4 linked regions of the Homo sapiens genome follow. The protein of the gene in region 1 purifies or fractionates together with the protein of each later gene. This does not show direct contact. Each region holds a gene or a part of one and is shown in the gene's direction. Other genes may lie near its edges.

Evidence for each region. The genes of interacting proteins can lie anywhere in the genome.
Region 2: the proteins of CCDC88A (region 1) and QSER1 purify together in Homo sapiens (affinity purification with mass spectrometry, with the first as the bait; one large-scale study listed by BioGRID). This does not show direct contact.
Region 3: the proteins of CCDC88A (region 1) and PKM purify together in Homo sapiens (affinity purification with mass spectrometry; one large-scale study listed by BioGRID and IntAct). This does not show direct contact.
Region 4: the proteins of CCDC88A (region 1) and ANXA7 purify together in Homo sapiens (affinity purification with mass spectrometry, with the first as the bait; one large-scale study listed by BioGRID). This does not show direct contact.

The regions. Positions count from the first base shown.
Region 1 is NC_000002.12:55,293,995-55,298,901, reverse strand, and holds part of CCDC88A (girdin), read left to right. Parts: intron 1-2,378; coding exon 2,379-2,644; intron 2,645-2,845; coding exon 2,846-3,305; intron 3,306-4,907. UniProt on the Homo sapiens protein: Bifunctional modulator of guanine nucleotide-binding proteins (G proteins). Acts as a non-receptor guanine nucleotide exchange factor which binds to and activates guanine nucleotide-binding protein G(i) alpha subunits.
Region 2 is NC_000011.10:32,972,385-32,977,291, forward strand, and holds part of QSER1 (glutamine and serine-rich protein 1), read left to right. Parts: intron 1-1,012; coding exon 1,013-1,165; intron 1,166-2,863; coding exon 2,864-2,959; coding exon of another isoform or gene 2,960-3,172; exon of another isoform or gene 3,173-3,246; intron 3,247-3,949; coding exon 3,950-4,090; 3' UTR 4,091-4,907. UniProt on the Homo sapiens protein: Plays an essential role in the protection and maintenance of transcriptional and developmental programs.
Region 3 is NC_000015.10:72,213,210-72,218,116, reverse strand, and holds part of PKM (pyruvate kinase PKM), read left to right. Parts: intron 1-616; coding exon 617-708; intron 709-4,907. UniProt on the Homo sapiens protein: Catalyzes the final rate-limiting step of glycolysis by mediating the transfer of a phosphoryl group from phosphoenolpyruvate (PEP) to ADP, generating ATP.
Region 4 is NC_000010.11:73,396,078-73,400,984, reverse strand, and holds part of ANXA7 (annexin A7), read left to right. Parts: intron 1-127; 5' UTR 128-128; coding exon 129-182; intron 183-2,599; coding exon 2,600-2,804; intron 2,805-3,710; coding exon 3,711-3,821; intron 3,822-4,401; coding exon 4,402-4,466; intron 4,467-4,875; coding exon of another isoform or gene 4,876-4,907. UniProt on the Homo sapiens protein: Calcium/phospholipid-binding protein which promotes membrane fusion and is involved in exocytosis.

The DNA.
Region 1 (4,907 bases):
TTTTTGTGTTTTTTTTTTTTTTTTTTTTGAGACGGGTTCTCGCTGTGTCACCCAGGCTGAGTGCAGTGGTACTATCTCAAATCACTGCAACTTCTGCCTCCCAGACTCAAGCGATCCTACCACGTCAGCCTCCCACGTAACTGGGACTACAGAGACCCATGCCACCATGCCCAGCTAGTTTTTTTGTATTTTTGTTAGAGACAGGGTTTCTAACATGTTGCCCAGGCTTGTCTCGAACTCCTGTGCTCAAGTGAGGCACCTCATCCAGCCTCTGAATTATTTGACCAATATATCATAGTTACTCTCTGTACTCCAGAATTGTCAGGTTACAAGGAATGCATTTGTTTTGTTCCTTTTTGGATTATAAAATTATTTTGTCTCAGTTGTAATTTTATTTTATCAATTAATGCTATGACATTATTACAGTGATCTGAAATACCTAATTTTGAGGTGGGTTTCTTTTTTTAATTTTTATCATGTTTTTCAGATTTCTTTGTTCCTTTCCCACTCCCACTACTTCATTTGACTAGCCTTAAAAGAAATAAATTATTTAATTAAAAATGTTTTTACATCCAGTAGAAAAATGTAGTCTGAAAATAGGATTTTTTTTTTTCTGATTTGAAAATTTAAGAAACTCTTACTTTTGTAAAATGTTACATAACTTGAGCCAAATTCTTTCGTGGCCCACTTTACTCTCTGTGACTGGGAAACAATGGAAAGTTGCATTTTCTGTTTTGATGTACAGTTTGTTCGTGATCAAAACAAATCCGTACTCTTAAGGAACACCATAGATTTGAGGGAGTTTAATTCTAGAACTAGCAAATTTTCATTTTATATAGTTGCTTAATGTCAACTGAGTCTTTTAAGGTTATATAGGCACCATATCAACAGTGGACAGCAAGAACAATAAGATGATCAAGACATTTAAAAAAGAATAAAGCACTACATATTTGATTGTATACTTTTACTGAAATGTTGTAAGTAATTGCTTCATATCTTTATTTAACTTTCCTTATGTGTATGCTCTTTAAATTTTTTTAAATGTTTAAAGTTATCCATGCAGGATGAACAGAGAAGCCTTCAAGTAGTAATGAGGACTTCTTAGATAAGCAAATAATTAAAATAGAATTTTCTGCATTTAGAACAGTTTTTGGTCTTAACATACTGAAATAATATAAAATTCACCTAATGAGCCAGGTGCGGTGGCTCACACCTGTAATCCCAGCACTTTGTGAGGCCGAGGTGGGCAGATCACCTGAGGTCAGGAGTTACAGACCAACCTGGCCAACATGGTGAAGCCCCGTCTCTACTAAAAGTACAAAAATTAGCCTGGCATGGGGGCGCATGCCTGTAATCCCAGCTACTTGGGAGGCAGAGGCAAGAGAATCACTTGAACCCAGGAGGCGGGGGTTGTAGTGAGCTGAGATCGTGCCACTGCATTCCAGCCTGGGTGACACAGTGAGACCCCATCTCAAAAAAAAAAAATACACACATATGTATATTTATATATAATATATATTTATATATAATATATATTATATATATTTATATATAATATATAAATTTATATATTATATATTATATATTTATATATAATTATATATAAATTATATATATTATATATAATATATATAAAAATACACATTAGATGAAATATATATATATATTTTGTCTAATCATGTTCTTATCCTAAATTGTGAGGCATTTTATTTTATTTATTTTTATTGTTGAGACAGAGTCTCAGGCCAGAGTGCAGTGGCGCGATCTCTGCTCACTGCAACCTCCACCCCCCCAGTATCAAGCAATTCTCCTGCCTCAGCCTCCTGAGTAGCTGGGACTACAGGCGTGCACCAGCACGCCTGGCAAATTTTTTGTATTTTTAGTAGAGACGGGGTTTCTCCATATTGGCCACGCTGGTCTCCAACTCCTGACCTCGTGATCCGCCTGCTTCGGCCTTCCAAAGTGTTGGGATTACAGGCGTGAGCCACCACGCCTGGCCTGCAAGGCATTTTATAACTATTTGAACCTGAATTTTAAAAAATATATTATTCACTTATTTATTCATTCATTTACTCAAAAAATATATTGAATGCTTTGTATGAGGCTCTGTTTAGGCTCTGAGTATGATAGTAAAAGCAAGTCTTTGCCCTTATGGAGCTTACAATAGTTGTCAGTTTGACAAAATAAGGAAGCAGGCTATGGCAGACAATTGTTAGACTGATAAAAGATTGACATGGTTTACTAAGCATTTCTAAATAAAGCTTGAAAGTAAATTTGGCTGTTCATATAATTAGCACACAGTCAACAAATGTTATTACTCATGAAGTATTAATCTCAATTCTATTATTGAAATCTCAACACCCCATTTACTCCAAAAGCAGGTGCAGTTAATAACCAAAGCAGGCCACAAAGCCACAGCAGTGGAGAATTTAGCCTGCTTCATGACCATGAGGCTTGGTCCAGCAGTGGTAGCAGTCCAATCCAGTACTTGAAAAGACAGACCAGATCAAGCCCAGTGCTCCAGCACAAAATATCTGAAACACTGGAGAGTCGACATCACAAGATCAAAACTGGTTCCCCTGGAAGTGAAGTTGTTACTCTACAACAGTTTTTGGAAGAAAGCAATAAGCTTACCTCAGTACAGGTTAGTTTTATCTATGATGACCTTAATTTAGATGAACACCACAAGTTAAATTTCTGTAATTGAACTTCAGAGCTTTTTTTTTTTGGTAAGTTAAGGAGTATTAAGAGGTACCACAATTTTATATTGCACAGTCTGCTAAATCAGGAAAGTAAAAACATGGCACTATATTCACTAATCTGCTTTGAATTTTTTTTTAAACAGATAAAGTCCTCAAGTCAAGAGAATCTTTTAGATGAAGTAATGAAAAGTTTGTCTGTCTCTTCTGACTTTTTGGGAAAAGACAAACCAGTTAGCTGTGGTCTGGCCAGGTCAGTAAGTGGAAAAACCCCAGGGGACTTCTATGATAGACGGACAACTAAGCCTGAGTTTTTGAGACCTGGTCCTCGAAAAACTGAAGATACCTACTTCATTAGTTCTGCGGGAAAACCTACACCAGGCACTCAAGGAAAAATAAAATTAGTAAAAGAATCTTCTCTGTCACGACAATCAAAAGATAGTAACCCTTATGCAACTTTACCTCGTGCAAGCAGCGTGATCTCAACTGCCGAAGGAACTACACGAAGGACAAGCATCCATGATTTTTTGACCAAGGACAGTAGACTGCCTATATCAGTTGATTCACCACCAGCTGCTGCTGACAGCAACACCACTGCAGCATCTAGTGAGTACCATTTACACCAGTGGTCCTCTCATATACTTGACATCCCAACACATACTATAGGTTCTTGTGCCCAAAATGATTTAGCTATAGACATGCCTGAGCCTCTATATGCCCAGGCTAGAAACTCAAGAACAGGAAGGTCACATTTTCTAAACCAAACTTTTGCCACTATTAGGATGCCTAGTGATGCATTCGGAATGTTGGCAAAAGATAGCATAGGACCATTTACTGTGGCCCATTCATCTCAGCCATTCTTATCCCTGAATACAGAATTAGTTAGTAACATAAGTGGGTTACCTCCTAGGCCAGTTATCAGAATAACTGACCAGGCTTCTGCCTCTTTGGATAAACCTGCACAGAAAGAAAATGAACAGTTTTCTGATCATCAGAACCCTAGTAACAGTAACCTACAGTTTTCTATAAATAGCAACAATCTTGTCACTTCTGCATGCCTCTATCCTGATGACACAGAAGCTGCATTGTTGGTTTCTGAGGATAATCAAACTGTTTGGTATGAATATGGTTGTATATGATCAAAACTGCACAATATAATATATTGATGTTATTTGATATACACTGCTTCTCTAATATGATTTGAAAAGTTGCTGTTAACAAAATATCATTTGGCTAGGTTTTTATTTTTTATTTAAAATTGTTGCACAGTGTTCAGCTGTACATGATGGCATGTATATTAATGTGAATGTGTAACCACACCAAAACCTGCATGAAATATTAATTACTTTGTCCATTTTCTGCATGCCTTTAAAAACCTTAACCATACATGCTCCTCCTTCACATTTTTTGTTGCCTGATAAGATTGTTACTTTGATATCCAGAAGCATGTTAAAACAGTTGCATGCTCTCTTACCAAGAAGACATTTCCAAGTCATATTTGCTTTGTTGCTTCTGGAAAAAAATGTTCATTTCCTCCCTCCCTTCCTCCTCTTCCCACCCCTCACTTGCTCTGACTGTCACTCCTTTTTTTCTTCCAGAATGTGTACTTTATATTACATATGTACAGTATCAGTAGGGAAAATGTAAAAAGATGTTGTTTTCTTTTGTCATTTAATTAGGCCATCTGTCCTGTTTTAAAGAAATAGTTAATAATTCAACACTTTATATAACAAATATTAACTAATACCCATATTTATAAAACATTTTTCAGATTTAAAAGATTGTTAATACTTATAAACTTAGTGTTATTCTTAGAAAACCCCATCAAATTTAAATGTGATTTACACAGTGACTAGGAACATTTGTATTTATTGTTTCTTCTCTGCACTTTTCATCATCTGATAAATACAAGAGCTCAAGTAACTGTCTTTTCTTCAAGATGGCTTCTATACTTGAAATCAGTTAATACAATAGTTTTTCCAGTTCTTTTTTTATAGAGAGTCAAAGAGAAATAAACCAAATTATATTCATTGTGTTGGAAATTTGTATTTTTACTTCTAATCAAAAAGGGTAGCAAGTTTACAAAGTGGTAAAAATTGTTACTTCTATAATTAATCTATTATTAAATTATACATGTATATCCTTAAAACAGAATTTTTTTTAAATGAATAATCACACTAAAATGTAAAATTAGAACTTGTAACCATT
Region 2 (4,907 bases), on another chromosome or scaffold:
AGGGCATAAATAGGCCAGTGGCTTATTTATTTATTTATTTATTTATTTATTTATTTATTTATTTATTTAGAGATAGAGTCTCTCTCTGTCACCCAGACTGGAGTGCAGTGGCATGATATTAGCTCAGTACAACCTCTGCCTCCCGAGTTCAAGCGATTCTCTTACCTCAGCCTCCTGAGTAGTTGGGATTACAGGTGTGCACCACCTCACCCAGCTAATTTTTGTATTTTTAGTAGAGACAAGGTTTTGCCATGTTGGTCAGGCTGGTCTCGAACTCCTGGCCTCAAGTAATTTGCCCACCTTGGCCTCCCAAAGTGCTGGGATTACAGGCATGAGCCACCATTCCTGGCCACCAGTGGCTTTTAAAGGATGGAGTGGAATTGGTTTTGCCACATAACCACTGTCAAAAAACCCATCATGCTCTGTTTTAGGATCTTATCTTACAAGTACTTGTCTTGCAGTCAAAATAAGCAAGAGAAGAGTGAAGCCAGAGAAGCACTACAGTGCCGCTTCTCCTCTGTCGTCATCTTCACCAGAGGCAGATGACTTCTTTATAGCAAGGCCCAGCCACATTTCACGGGGCAAGCAGTGGTTTAAGTGGTAGGGCTTTAGTGAAACATGTATGTCTTCCTTTCTCCTGCCTTGAAGCCAGAGACATTACTAGAAAGAACTCTTGGCCCTGTTAAGGGTTCCCAGTGTGGTGTGCTGTTGCTTAAATAAGCAGGTCATAGAGTTGGCTCAGATTTAAGGGATTTAAGGGAAATAGATTACATATCCAATAGGAAGGGCTGCAAAGAGCTTATGACCATGTTTAAACCCCAACCTGTGTATGTATATGTATGCATATCCCATCAGTACACACACACCTCTCTGCAAATAGGTGTTTGTGTGCACACACACCTCTCTGCAAATAGGTGTTTGTGTGCACACACACTTCTAAATTTTAGATAGCTAGAAGTAGTTTAGGTTAGTTTTCTTCTGGTGTCAGTTATTTTGCTTCATTGTTTTCCAGAATGCTTTGGAAAGTTTTCCTGAACTAACAATAATTACTCGAGATTCTAAAGCAAAGAGTGGAGGAACTGCTATTTCTAAAATCAAAATGAATGGCAAAGCCTATAATAAGAAAACTCTAAGGACTTCTAAAACAACCACCAAATCTGCACAAGTAAGTGTAATTGATTATTAATGTAACTATACCTTTTCCAATTGTTAATACAATTCCTACTTAAAACATTGAAACAAGCAAATATTTTACTATGTTGTCATTAAGTGTGAAGGTTTTTCAGGTAGGAATAAGCGTCACTGGCCTGAGGAACAGGGACGCATGGTGGTTTATTGTTTTTCTATAGCACAGTATCAGGCATATAATATGTGCTCACAAATTTCTTAAATTGACTAATATGGAAGAAATCATCTCGTGCTCATGTTTATATATTTGTAGGTAGTTTTTCATTTTTTAAATTGCATATATTATGTACAAAATGTTTTGAAATGTGTGTACATTGTGAAATGGCTAATTCAAACTCATTAACATATGCATTACTTGTAATATAGGTATATTTTTAATTGTATATGCATGCACATAGATAAGTAAGTGTGCAGAACACATTCCATAAAAAGATGAAATGTTTATTTCATATCTGCAAAGTCATTAAAATTGGAATTTGTTCATCTTCAAACATAGTATAAATTGTTATAACCTTTTCAGAAAACAGTTTGGCAACATATCAACTTCACAGCAAAAATGTATTCAGGGCTAAGCACAATGGCTCAAGCCTATAATCCCAGCACTTTGGGAGGCTGAGGCAGGAGGATCACTTGAGTCCAGGTGTTCGAGACCAGTCTTGGCAACAAAGCAAGGCCCCATGTCTACCCTGGGGGGAGAAAAAAAAATTAGCCAGGCATGGTGCCATGCACCTGTAGTCCTAGCTACTTGAGAAGCTGAGTGGGAGGATCGCTTGAGTCCAGGGAATTGAGACTGCAGTGAGCTGTGATTGCACCCCTGCACTCCAGCCTGGGTGACAGAATGAGACACTGTCTCAAAAAAAAAAAAAAAAGTATTCTGTAGAAATAGATTCAGAAATGCATAAAAATACATACCTTTGCTCATTGTGGAATTGTTTGTAAGAGCAATCCAATTATGTACCACCAGTGTGAGGTTAGATAAATGAAGAGCCACGTAATGTCATACTACGTGCTTTTTATAAAGAAGAGATAGATTTGTTCATTCTTTCAGAAAAATTTTTTTGAGTGCCTATAGTATGCCAAGTACAGTTCTAAGTACTAGAGATACAACAGTGAAAACTGGTTAAAAGTCCTTACCCTCATATAGTTTGTATTTGGGGAGGATGGGGAGGGACAGCTATATGTACTAAATGAAAAGATAGCCAATTATTAGTTAGGTCAAAAAACACGTTGGAAGAAAGAAGAAAAGTTGCTAGACAATATGTATAGTGTGATTCCCTTCTCATTACAAAATTAGTGTTATTAACATACATGTTATACCTGGGGGAAAACATTAAAAAATATATAACATGCCATTAGCTTTGTTTAGCTCTGAAGCAGGAGATTATAGGGAGCTTTTATTTTATAAATCATCTCATATGTTTATTGTTTAAATTTTCCTATAATGCTTAAGTTTTTTCAATAATGCATATTTATATGCAGGATAAAGAATAAGATTTTAAAATATAATTTAAATTCTTATTTTGAATAAGTCTCTCCATATTAACCCAACTGAATACCTACCCATATATGTCATTTTCAACATTGCCATTGAGACTTTTGATCTAGTATTTTCCTCAAAGTGTTCTTAGCTCAGATACTCCATGAAATGTATCTATAAACTTTTTTCTTTTTATAGGAGTTTGCTGTCGATCCAGAGAAAATACAGTTGTATTCTTTGTATCATTCACTCCATCATTATAAGTACCATGTTTATCTGATATGTAAGGATGAGGTAATTTCTTCTCATTTACTTAAAAAAAATGTTTTTCAGAATGTTAAGGAGACTCTAGCCATAGTATTTTGGAGTGTTTTAAAGAGAGTTGTGAAATACATGTGTGTATGTATTTTGTCTATGTATTCTGTAAATAATGACTTGATTTATTGTTCTGAGTCTCTCTGCTATGTTTTGTGCTCAGATTTACCCGAGCCTCACCACCTCTTGTAGGAGCTATAATTGGTAATGTTTTGAAGCTGTTGGTGCTTGCTTTACATCGCCATAATAAATGATGTTTTATTGCATTTTGTTCTCTCACAGTGTATGATGATCTTGCTTTAATTCACTTCAGTCACTGCTTTGACATCTCACTGCCTTACTTATTACTTAGAATGGCCTTATCCCACTTAATTGCAGAGAAGTGGGGTTTTGTGCCTTGGCATGAAAAACTGAAAGTTAAAATTTAATTGTAGCTTTTAAGTTGTTCAGAGATTATACATGACAAAATATCACCTCATGGATGGGATATAAGCATTAATTTCCACAGCCATGCTAAATGGTTGTAGACAATACTACCTTATTTGACCAGCACTATCACTTCTTTTCATTATAAAGGGTCCAAGGCTATATCTAATGTGTTTGACAGTAGTCTGGTATGGAAAGATGCTCATAAATCTAACCTTTATATAGCAAAAGAGAAAGCAAAGATGGTGATGCAACATAGGTTCACTGTTTTTACAATGCTCTAAAATGCAGAATCGACTCCAAAATTTGTCATTTGACTTTTAACGTAATTGGAAGAAATGGAGAAAGTCTGAAGTACTTTTTCTAGCCTTCCTTTCTGCCACCTTGGAGCCAAAGATGAGAGGATGAGATCTCACCCAAATTTAGCTGAAATAATCATTCTCCATGGATAGGATTAAGAAAAAAATAAAATACCAGTACTTGTAGTTGAACTTAAATATGATGTGATAAGTATAAGCTAATTTGGCGATTTTCTTTTTTTAGATTTCTTCGGTGCAGAAAAAAAATGAAGATTTAGGACAGGAGGAAATTGTTCAACTTTGTATGAAAAATGTAAAATGGGTGGAGGACCTCTTTGAAAAATTTGGAGAACTTCTAAATCATGTACAGCAGAAATGTTCCTGACTTTTCCACAAAAATCCCATCTTTTTATAGCACTAATGAAATGGCAGATATGGGGTGGTCAAAGATAATCAGATGTCAAGTAGTGGCCTTCTGCAGGCCGGCCGCTTCCATCATGGAACTGTCATTACCACCTCTGCTGAAGGACAGTGGTGCGGCCTTTAGGAACGAAGTTAGTCCTCTGGAAATGGACCTAAATCCCACCACATTTTTACCCTAATGAATGATTTTTCTATTTTGTAAACCATTGGGTAACTTGAGTCATATTTTCAGAAACATTTTTTGACAAATGATGAAGCATGCACTAAGTATAATTTTTTTTTATTGCTAGAGAAGTAACACTTAAAGTAACGATTTTTTTTTTCTGACTCCGGCTAAACACCAGAATGACAGAGAAGTGGCAGAAACCATATGTTTGTACTCACATCTGGCCACAAAACCAGAAATACTGTACATTATGTAAAGAGGTCTGGTGTGGTGTGACATCCTGTATAAGAATATCATCAATTTAAAATATAAAATTTGGAAACTATTCTGCTTTACAGACTCCTTTTACTCTTAACATGTTCAGGAAACTGGATGTGGAATTGGTGCAATTCTCTGACTGCTTTTTGTGTCAAATTATATTGTGATAAAAAAACAATGACATACTATTTTCCCTATCGCAAAGAAAAGTATTTTCGTTTATACTGTTTTTTCCTTTGGAAAATTTTCAATTGTACATTTTATTTCACTGATAGTTGTATTTTTCACAAGGAAAATGTTGTGGTTATAATTACGTTTGATATATCTCTACAACACCTTTTGTTATTTTCAGTAA
Region 3 (4,907 bases), on another chromosome or scaffold:
AAAACATCGCTAAGAGTAAATTTCAAATGTTCTCACCACAAAAATGTTAAGTATTTGAAGTCATGGATATGTTAACTAACCTGATTTAATTATTCCACATTGTATCCAAACTGTATGTATTGGATTACATAACTTTGTAACCCAAATTATAAATTACCAGTTTATAATAAAAAATAATTTGTTGCAAAAAGAATCCATATGGTTTAGGTTTTATGCTATAGGCAAAATTTAGAAGATGTTTTCCTTAGCAGGTCTTTGTAGGAGCAACTTAAAGACCTAGGAAAGATCTTTCTAACATGTTCTGTGCTACCAAGATTCTGTGGTTGGACATCTGGCTGGGTTTCAGTGAGGGTGGAGAAGGCTGGCCAAGTCTTAACCTAGGCTTTTCTGATACAGTGGGAGCCTGCAGAACTTGAAGGAAATGGTCGAAGTGTCCCAGTAGATCAAGAAAGTAAGCTGGCACGGTAGTAGCCTTCCATGCACTTTTTAAAGACTTTTGAGCTATTTGGGAGAGGAAAAGTTTTCAGGGAAAAAAATTCTTTAAACTTAAGCAAACTTAAATGTTTTTCCTTCTTTGAATAATTAATACTTGTGGCTTTAAAACTTTTCCTAATAGGCCCAGCTTCCCGATCAGTGGAGACGTTGAAGGAGATGATTAAGTCTGGAATGAATGTGGCTCGTCTGAACTTCTCTCATGGAACTCATGAGGTGAGCTGTGGCTGGACCCTATGGCCATTGTGATGGCCTGTAGGAAACAGGGAGGGGGTGCAGTGTTCGTTTAGCCACAGTGGACTAGACAAGGATGAGTCTGAGTTTCACAGTCAGTGTGAAGTTTGTCTTTACTAGCCCATCCCTACTCTCCTTCCCTCTTGTCCTGACAAAGCAACTGGCTGAGTCTCTTTTAGCAAAAAGGACCCCCTTTGTTGCTGGCTGTGGTTCTCCCACACACCTCTCCTACCCTTAGCTTTTACAAAGGAAGATATGGAAAGGTTCTACTGGAAAACCCTCTAAGCCTTAGGTGTCCTGGCCACAGCGCTTGACTCTCCTGTCCCAGGGTTTCTGCTTCACCTTGTGTTGCCATGGTAAACCATCTAGCAGATTGATTCTAGCTTAGAACCAAAATAACTGGGCAGGTCCATGAGAACGGTTTCCACTATTCTAAGTTTTGAGGGACTGAGCCTAATGCATAAGCACTATCTGGGGTGTAATACCCCACTTCCTCAGCACTGTATTCTCAGCCTGTGCCTTCCCAGGGGTTCTGGTACATTAAAATAACACCAGTTAGCACTCTTCCCCAGGAGCCTAGTAGGACTGTATTTGTGCTGGGCTCTTTATTAGCTGGCTTTACCTATGGACAGAGGCCTTGCCCAGGAGCCAGGTAGCAGCTGTTGGGATGGCTCCATTCCTGCCTCCATTGCCAGATTTAGAATTAACCCATTCTGAGGAGCTTGGGGTTCCCTGAGGTACCATGACTTATTTATTTTTTTATTTTATAAAACAAAATTTTGCTCTGTCATCCAGGCTGGACTGCAGTGGTATGATTATGGCTAACTGGATCCTTGACCTCCCAGGTTCAAGTGATCCTCTTGCCTCAGCCTCCCGAGTAGCTGGGAATACAGGCATGCACCACCACACCTGGCTAATTTAAAAATTTTTTTGGGGGAAATGAGGTCTCACTATATTGCCTTGGCTGGTCTCAAACTCCTGGGCTCAAGTGATTCTCTCAAATGTTGGGATTACAGGAATGAGCTACCATGCTCAGCCTGGGATTGTGCCTTTTTAAAACCTTCAGACTTAACCATAGGTTTCCCATAGATCATGGGATTTCGTAATGGCATTGATAAGAGGAATTACAGAAGAGGCAAACTTTGCACCTGTCTTGGCTTCTGTATTTCCTGTTGAGAGTAAAGAAAATGCTATCCTGTAAGGCCAATTGCCTTACAGAGGTTGCCCTCTGGCATTTGGAAGTTGGTATTAAGTTTGGACTAAAAATAAAGCCTCAGGAAATGCAATCCAAGAGTGAATTCCTCCTTTTGGGAAACACAAGACTCTTCATCATAGATTCCCTAACCTGTGTTCATAAACAGCCTATGGCCTGGCTAGTGGCTGGCCCTTAAATGTCATGGGGACCTGACCAAGTCCAGCAGACATACCATGTAGGTTAAGACATGTCCCTGTACCTTTTGGAAAATTCTGTAGTTTTCCAAAAGCAAGGGGTCCTTAGCAGGAGTCACCGAGAATTACTTGTTAGAGAATTAAGTGTTAGCTTAGCTTAGAGAGAGCTGAAGACAATGCTGGAGGTCTGTTCGCTGTTGATCCCTGCTGCTGTAGTCTGCCATGGGCTCCTGCATTCAGGGGAAGGAGCAGAAATAGATTTTTAAGAAGTTGACCTTTAAGTAGGCTTTATGGTTCCTTCATCCAGTAAAATAACACCACATAGCTCTAACATGGCAAGGGCGAGTGATACCTGCCACACCTGCTGGATGAGAGCTGGCTCCGATTTTGGTATTTTAAACTTTAAGAGGCTTTTGGAGATTATCTCTACTTTCACTCCTATTCCCAGATTATAATTAAGATTTATTTTTTATTTTTTATCTATTTATTTTTTAAAGATGTCCCTCTTGTGTGTTCATTTTGAAGTTTTAGACCAAGATGAGGTTGTGTGTGGGCTCAGCTTGGAAACTGATCTGAAATTATTCTAATTTATATAATGTAATGTAAACAGTTTCAGCCTTACCATACGTCAGGGCTATCGTTTCATGTGCACCTTTGACTAGGGGCTGGGGCGTACTTTTCCAGTTTCTGACTATTTTAAATGCTCTTCTGAGCAGAACGTTGAGATTACTGTCTTCCCTCTCACTCTGACAGAGGGACATCAAATGTCTGCATCTGATCTTTTAACAGCTTTTTTTTTTTGAGACAGAATCTTGCTCTGTTGCCCAGGCTGGAGTGCACTGGCACAATCTCTGCTCACCACAACCTCTGCCTCCCAGGTTCAAGCAATTCTCATACCTCAGCCTCCTGAGTAGCTGGGATTACAGACCTGTGCCACCACGCCCAGCTAATTTTTTTATATTTTTAGTAGAGACGGGGTTTCGCCATGTTGGCCAGGCTGGTCTTGAACTTGTGACCTCAGGTGATCCGACTGCCTCGGCCTCCTAAAGGCGTGAGCCACCACGCCCAGCCCTCTTTTAACAGCTTTGGCAACTAGTCTTCAGCCCTCACTTTTGGCAGTTCACATGGGCAAGATGCATTCTTGCTGAACATGTGGTTCCATATGCCATGTTTTCCAGATTTATTTATTTATTTATTTATTTATTTAGAGAGGGAGTCTCGCTCTGTCATCCAGGCTGGAGTGCAGTGGCACGATCTTGGCTCACTGCAACCTCTGCCTCCTGGGTTCAAGAGATTCTTCTGCCTCAGCCTCCTAAGTATCTGAGATTACAGGCACCTGCCACCACACCCGACTAATTTTTGTATTTTAGTAGAGACTTGGTTTCACCTTGTTGGCCAGGCTGATCTCGAATTCCTGACCTCAAGTGATCCATCCGCCTTGGCCTCCCAAATTGCTGGGATTACAGGCGTGAGCCACCACACCTGGCCTAGAAATAATGACTTTTAAACAACCTAAATGTAGAGCCTTCCACAGGACAGCATTGATGGATGCTTTACCACATAACATCCCAATAAAGCCACAGCTGAAGTGGAAGACTCAGTACACCTCCCAGAGATGCTCTAAGAGATTATGATATATGACATAGATTTGAATAATATACCTAATAATTGGTATGTTTATAATATATGGTTTTACATCCCCAAGACCAAAAATGCATGTTTGCATGAAACACTCATGGTTACAAAAATATATTAGGCCACCAAAAAAACCCCCACGTTTCATAAAGTAGAAATTATACAGACACATTCTCTGATAAAATTTTTTAGTGGAAATTAAGAACAAAGTCAAGAAAACTGAAGTGTGCTTACTTTAGAAAGCAAAGATCTCAAGGTAGATGAAATAAATATTTAACTCAGAACACTAGGGGAGGAAAACCCTAAAAAGGGTGAAGAAAATAATTTTGTAAGATTATAGCTCAATGAAATGAAAATAAATTTGACAGATTAAGCTAAGAGCTGATTCTTTGTGGGGAAAAAATAGTAAAATAGAAAGTTCTGAGAAGCCAGGTGAAGAATGCGAGGATGTGCAAATAAGAGTATGAATAGAAAAGAGAATATTTCCTACACATTGGAGATTTTAAAAGTCAAGAAAGACTTATAACTTAATTCCTATATAGAGAGATGACTCTGGCTATTTTCAAAGAAAAGATAAATATCCAAAAGATAGAAAATATGAATAGACCAGTGGCCATAAGAAGTTGAAAAAGTGGGCTGGGCGTGCGGTGGCTCACACCTGCAATCCCAGCACTTTGGGAGGCCAAGGCGGAGGGATCACTTGAGGTCAGGAGTTCGAGACCAGCCTGGCCAACATGGTGAAACCCTGTCTCTACTAAAAATACAAAAATTGGCTGGGCATGGTGGCACATGCCTGCAGTCCCAGCTACTCGGGAGCCTGAGGCAGGAGAATCGCTTGAACCTGAGAGGTGGAGGCTACAGTGAGCCAAGATCGCGCCACTGCACTCCAGCCAAAAAGTTGAAAAAGTGATTAAGATCTGGTTCACCTCAGAACACTTAAGTCCAAATGATTTTAGTGGCTGAATTGTCTCCCCTTCAAAGTTCAGTTACATTGTTAAACTGTTCCAGAGCCTAGAGAAATATAGAAATCTTCCCACTGTGTTCTTTGAAACCAATATACGCTGATACTGAGATCAAACAAGGACAGTACCAAAACCAGGCAGGTACTAACAGTTAGTGTGCTAGACCAGTCTCACTTAGATGCAGAAAACAAATAA
Region 4 (4,907 bases), on another chromosome or scaffold:
CAGTGAGCCAAAATCACGCCACTGCACTCCAACCTGGTGACAGAGTGAGACTCCGTCTCAAAAAACAAAACAAAACAAAACAAAACAACAAAAAACTTACAGAGGACATTTTTTATTGTTGTTACAGAATGTCATACCCAGGCTATCCCCCAACAGGCTACCCACCTTTCCCTGGATATCCTGTAAGTATTGCCACTTAATACCTCACATCCTTAAAACAGGTGTTGTTTGGGACTGGCCCATGTCAGATCTTACAGATATGCTTGAGCAGGGGTCATAAATTCAGATGCTCAGAGGTACTACGTAGAAGTGAGGAAAGGCAATTGTGTGGGGGACTAGAGAGGTCTTGCTTTGTCTATTGAAAGCTGGCAGGTGCTTAGCACCAGCCCTGTGTAGCCATGGAGGGAGGCACACTCAGCGTTGCTAGATACTCCAGCCCTTCAAGTAAAGCCAGAAACTTGGGTTCTATGTGAAATTGCCCAAAGGTTCAAAATTTAGGAGTTAGTTTTAAAAAATGTTAACTGCTGTATGAGCCAGTAAAACATGGATGTAAGCAAAATCCATCCCATGAATCACTGGTTCTTTTTCTTTTTTTTAATGCCCTTGAGTCATAATATCACTGCATCTTAACCTTTGTGTTAGAATGTTTAAAATAATTAACGGCTTGGCTAGACCCAGAGATAAATTGCAGTGGATTTGTAGTTCTTAGACTTGGAGTACGTTTTATAAATGTGCTACTAAGTTCCACCTTGTTGATAGCTATACTACTCTGAGGACTAAGAGCTGAGCCATAAGTAAGAATTGTGCGTTTCAGTTTTTGTTTGTTTGTTTGTTTGTGTTTTTGAGATGGAGTCTCGCTGTGCGCCCAGGCTGGAGTGCAGTGGTGTGATCTCAGCTCACTGCAACTTATGCCTCCTGGGTTCAAGTGATTCTCCTGCCTCAGCCTCCCGAGTAGCTAGGATTTCAGGTGCCCGCCACTGTGCCTGGCTGATTTTTTGTATTTTTAGTAGAGACGGAATTTCACCATGTTGGCCAGGCTTGTCTCAAACTCCTGACCTCAAATGATCTGCCCTCCTTGGCCTCCCAAAGTGCTGGGATTATAGGCATGAGCCATTGCGCCTGGCCACATTTCAGTTTTTTGTTTTTGTTTTTGTTTTTGTTTTTGAGATGGAGTCTCGCTCTGTCACCAGGCTAGAGTGCAGTGGTGTGATCTCGACTCACTGCAACCTCCGTCTCCTGGGGTTCAAGCGATTCTCCTGCCTCAGCCTCCTGAGTAGCTGGGATTACAGGTACGTGCCACCACGCCCAGCTAGGTTTTGTATTTTTAGTAGAGATGGGGTTTCACAATGTTGGCCAGGATGGCCTCAATCTCCTGACCTCGTGATCCGCCCACCTCGGCCTCCCAAAGCGCTGGGATTACAGGCATGAGCCACTTAGCCCAGCCCACATTTTGGTTTTATACTCATAACTGTGGGGCTGCTATCTAACCCTGGGAGAATAGGAAGAGGGGTCTATACAAGTTTATGATAATATGTATCCTTATGCAAAGTGATTATATAGCTCTCGTGAATTTATCATAGGAGAGATGAGAATTATGGATATGTTCCCAAGTCCCTATGTATTAAACAGGACTGTAGTAACTATTTCAGTCAGTGTAGGCTAATTGCTAAAACAGACAACTCCCAAATCTCAGTGACTTAACACGATGAAAAAACAAATGTATTTCTTTCTTCAGTTTCCTGGACGTCAGTGGAGGATAGGGGGTGGGTGGGACGAGGCTTTGTTTCATGCAGTGTTTTGGGTTTCCAGGCTCCTTCCTTATTCTGATCCTACCATCCTTTAGCACTTTGGAGTCCTCCACTGGATCCTCTGCTTATGGGTGGCAGATGAAGGAAGAGAGAGAGCATGGAGGATTTGCCAGAGGTTTTTAGGGGACAGGTTTAGAAAGTGGTGTATCTCACTTTTGTCTATGTTCATTTACTGATATTCATTCATGTGGTTCGACCTAACTGCAAGGGGGTCTGGGAAGTGTAGTCTGTATAGCTTTGTGGCCTGGGGAGAAAGAGTTCAGTGAACATGCAACAATCTCTGCCACTCTGCATATTGCTGCTCTGAACCATGAAGTCCAAAATGTCACATCCGGTGTGTGATGTGATATACAGGTTACCTTTTTTATTTTTAAATATTATGTAACAGATCCAGATGTGTTGCAAGAAAGCCTCAAATTCCTCTGTTTAGGATATAGAGGAGGATCTTTCTCATATTTGTAGATGCTGGGAAAATGAAGGAACTGATGAGTTTTTTTTTTTTCTTAAAACCTTGAGGTTTGTAAAGAATCCTGTTCTGACTCCCAAATAGAGAAGCAGACCCCTCTTGCCTGACTCAAGTAGAATTAAATTTAACTGAATTCTGACAAACAAGTGTCCTTACAAACTGGTATACTGATAAACTAGTATAAGATACCAGGATTTCTAATGGGACTTTTAAAAAGTAAAAGAATGAGGTAGACCTTAATAATAACCTCTGTTTGTTCCTTATTTTTAGATGGGTCATATTTCTCTATGATCGTATTTGTTTAAAAATTATTCTGATTTTTCAGCCTGCAGGTCAGGAGTCATCTTTTCCCCCTTCTGGTCAGTATCCTTATCCTAGTGGCTTTCCTCCAATGGGAGGAGGTGCCTACCCACAAGTGCCAAGTAGTGGCTACCCAGGAGCTGGAGGCTACCCTGCGCCTGGAGGTTATCCAGCCCCTGGAGGCTATCCTGGTGCCCCACAGCCAGGGGGAGCTCCATCCTATCCCGGAGGTGAGTTACGGGTTGCGGAATTAGTAATGATTGGGATTGCTGTAGCACTTTTTCCTTCTCCCTTTATCCTCTTCATTCCTGCTTGTTTTGTATAAGGTCAAGTCGCTCTTAGGTAACCTTAGGTAGTAAGGACCTAGCTGGCAAGATGGAGGGATGAAGATTCTCTGGGGACATGAAAGCTGGGAGCAGTTTCAAAAATTCCACTGTGAAGGGACTTGGAATAAATTTCATGGCAATAAAGGACCAATATGTAACACTTTGCTTGTTTGTAGTCTTAAGACCTGATTAAGACATTTCAATTAGCAAGACTGTGACCTTTAGGTCAGCTTTATTCAAAGGTAAAAAAGACCCCAAAAAACAACAAAAAAACCTTAGCCCTTTTGTATTTTAAGTTAGTAGGGAAGAGTAATAAAGTAATATTTTGGCTGGGTGTGGTGTCTCACACCTGTAATCCCGACACTTTGGGAGGTTGAGGTGGGTGGATCACTTGAAGCAAGGAGTTCGAGACCAGCTTGGCCAACATGGTGAAACCCTGTCTCTACTAAAAATATGAAAATTAGCTGGGTGTGGTGGTGCATGCCTGTAATCCCACCTACCTGGGAGGCTGAGGCAGGAAAATCACTTGAACGTGGTAGGTAGAGTTTGCAGTGAGCCAAGATTGTGCCACTAAACTCCAGCCTAGGCAACAGAGTGAGACTGTCTCAAAAAATAAATAAATATATAAGGTAAAAATTTAAAAACTTATTTTTTACTGGAGAATTTGAAGTTTTGAATCTAGATAAACAGGGACTGCTATTATAGCATTAATAGCATATTTTTCCACTGTTAACAATAGATATTTTTCTAAAGTTTTTTCTGCAATCATGAGAACTGTACTATAGTTTATTGACATGTTCTTTTCTCTAGTTCCTCCAGGCCAAGGATTTGGAGTCCCACCAGGTGGAGCAGGCTTTTCTGGGTATCCACAGCCACCTTCACAGTCTTATGGAGGTGGTCCAGCACAGGTTCCACTACCTGGTAGGTACCAGCTGTCCAGAAAAAAACAGTATCATGATATTTTGAGTTTTTAAATCACCATTGAGGGAACTTAGTTTATATTTGAGATAATCTGCAATAAATGTTTATATTTCCATAAATAATTTTAAACATAATGGTTTTATGAAATATATTAAATTGATGGAAAAGTTTAATCAGTAAAATAGAGATAAAGTCACACTTTTTCTATTAAAAAAATCTGTCCCAAAGCCAAAAGGAAGCCTTCAGGAACTTCTCTGCCCACTCCTGTACCAATAGTAAAACCACCCCCAGAACTGTATTCTGACAACCATTCCAGGTGGACTCAGAATTTAATCTGATTCAAGTGTGAAAAAAGTATTATTTATGAGGATCTTATGTAGAACATGGAATATTAAAAAGGTTCTTATGACCAAAGTTGGTTTTAGATTCAGTAAATTATATTTTTAAAAACTATCCTCATAAGTATCATAGTGTGAATGTTCTTGTATGTTTCCATATTCATAGTCATCAATGCTGTTTTGAAAAATTAAAACATGTAAGACCTGTTGCCGTATTATTATTATTTTTTTTAACATTATAGGTGGCTTTCCTGGAGGACAGATGCCTTCTCAGTATCCTGGAGGACAACCTACTTACCCTAGTCAGGTATTTTGTTCCTACCTTTTAAGCTCACTCTAGGTAGCTAGATAAAGAAGGAACCTATCCTTTGCTGAGGTTTCCATGGGTCGGAGGAAATGGCCCATTATAGTAATGGAAGACTAAAGTCTTTACTTCTGATAGACTCCATACTTTCTTTGGTCCATCTGCTTTAATAGTGTCCTGATGACTTTGAGAAGACAAGCATAGGTCTATTCTCATAGGTAATGATTCTCACAACTTTATCCTGGAGATTAACCTGGGGTCTTGGTTTTAGTTCTTTTTCCTCTTCCTTGCCCTTACCAGCAGTTACACCTATGAATTTGGGTGGCTGGGTGATTGGTATTTCTGACAGTGATTTATGTAGGGTGGTTTTGTTTCCCATTTTTACCTTTATAACTTTTCACTCTTTTTTCAGATCAATACAGATTCTTTTTCTTCCTATCCTGT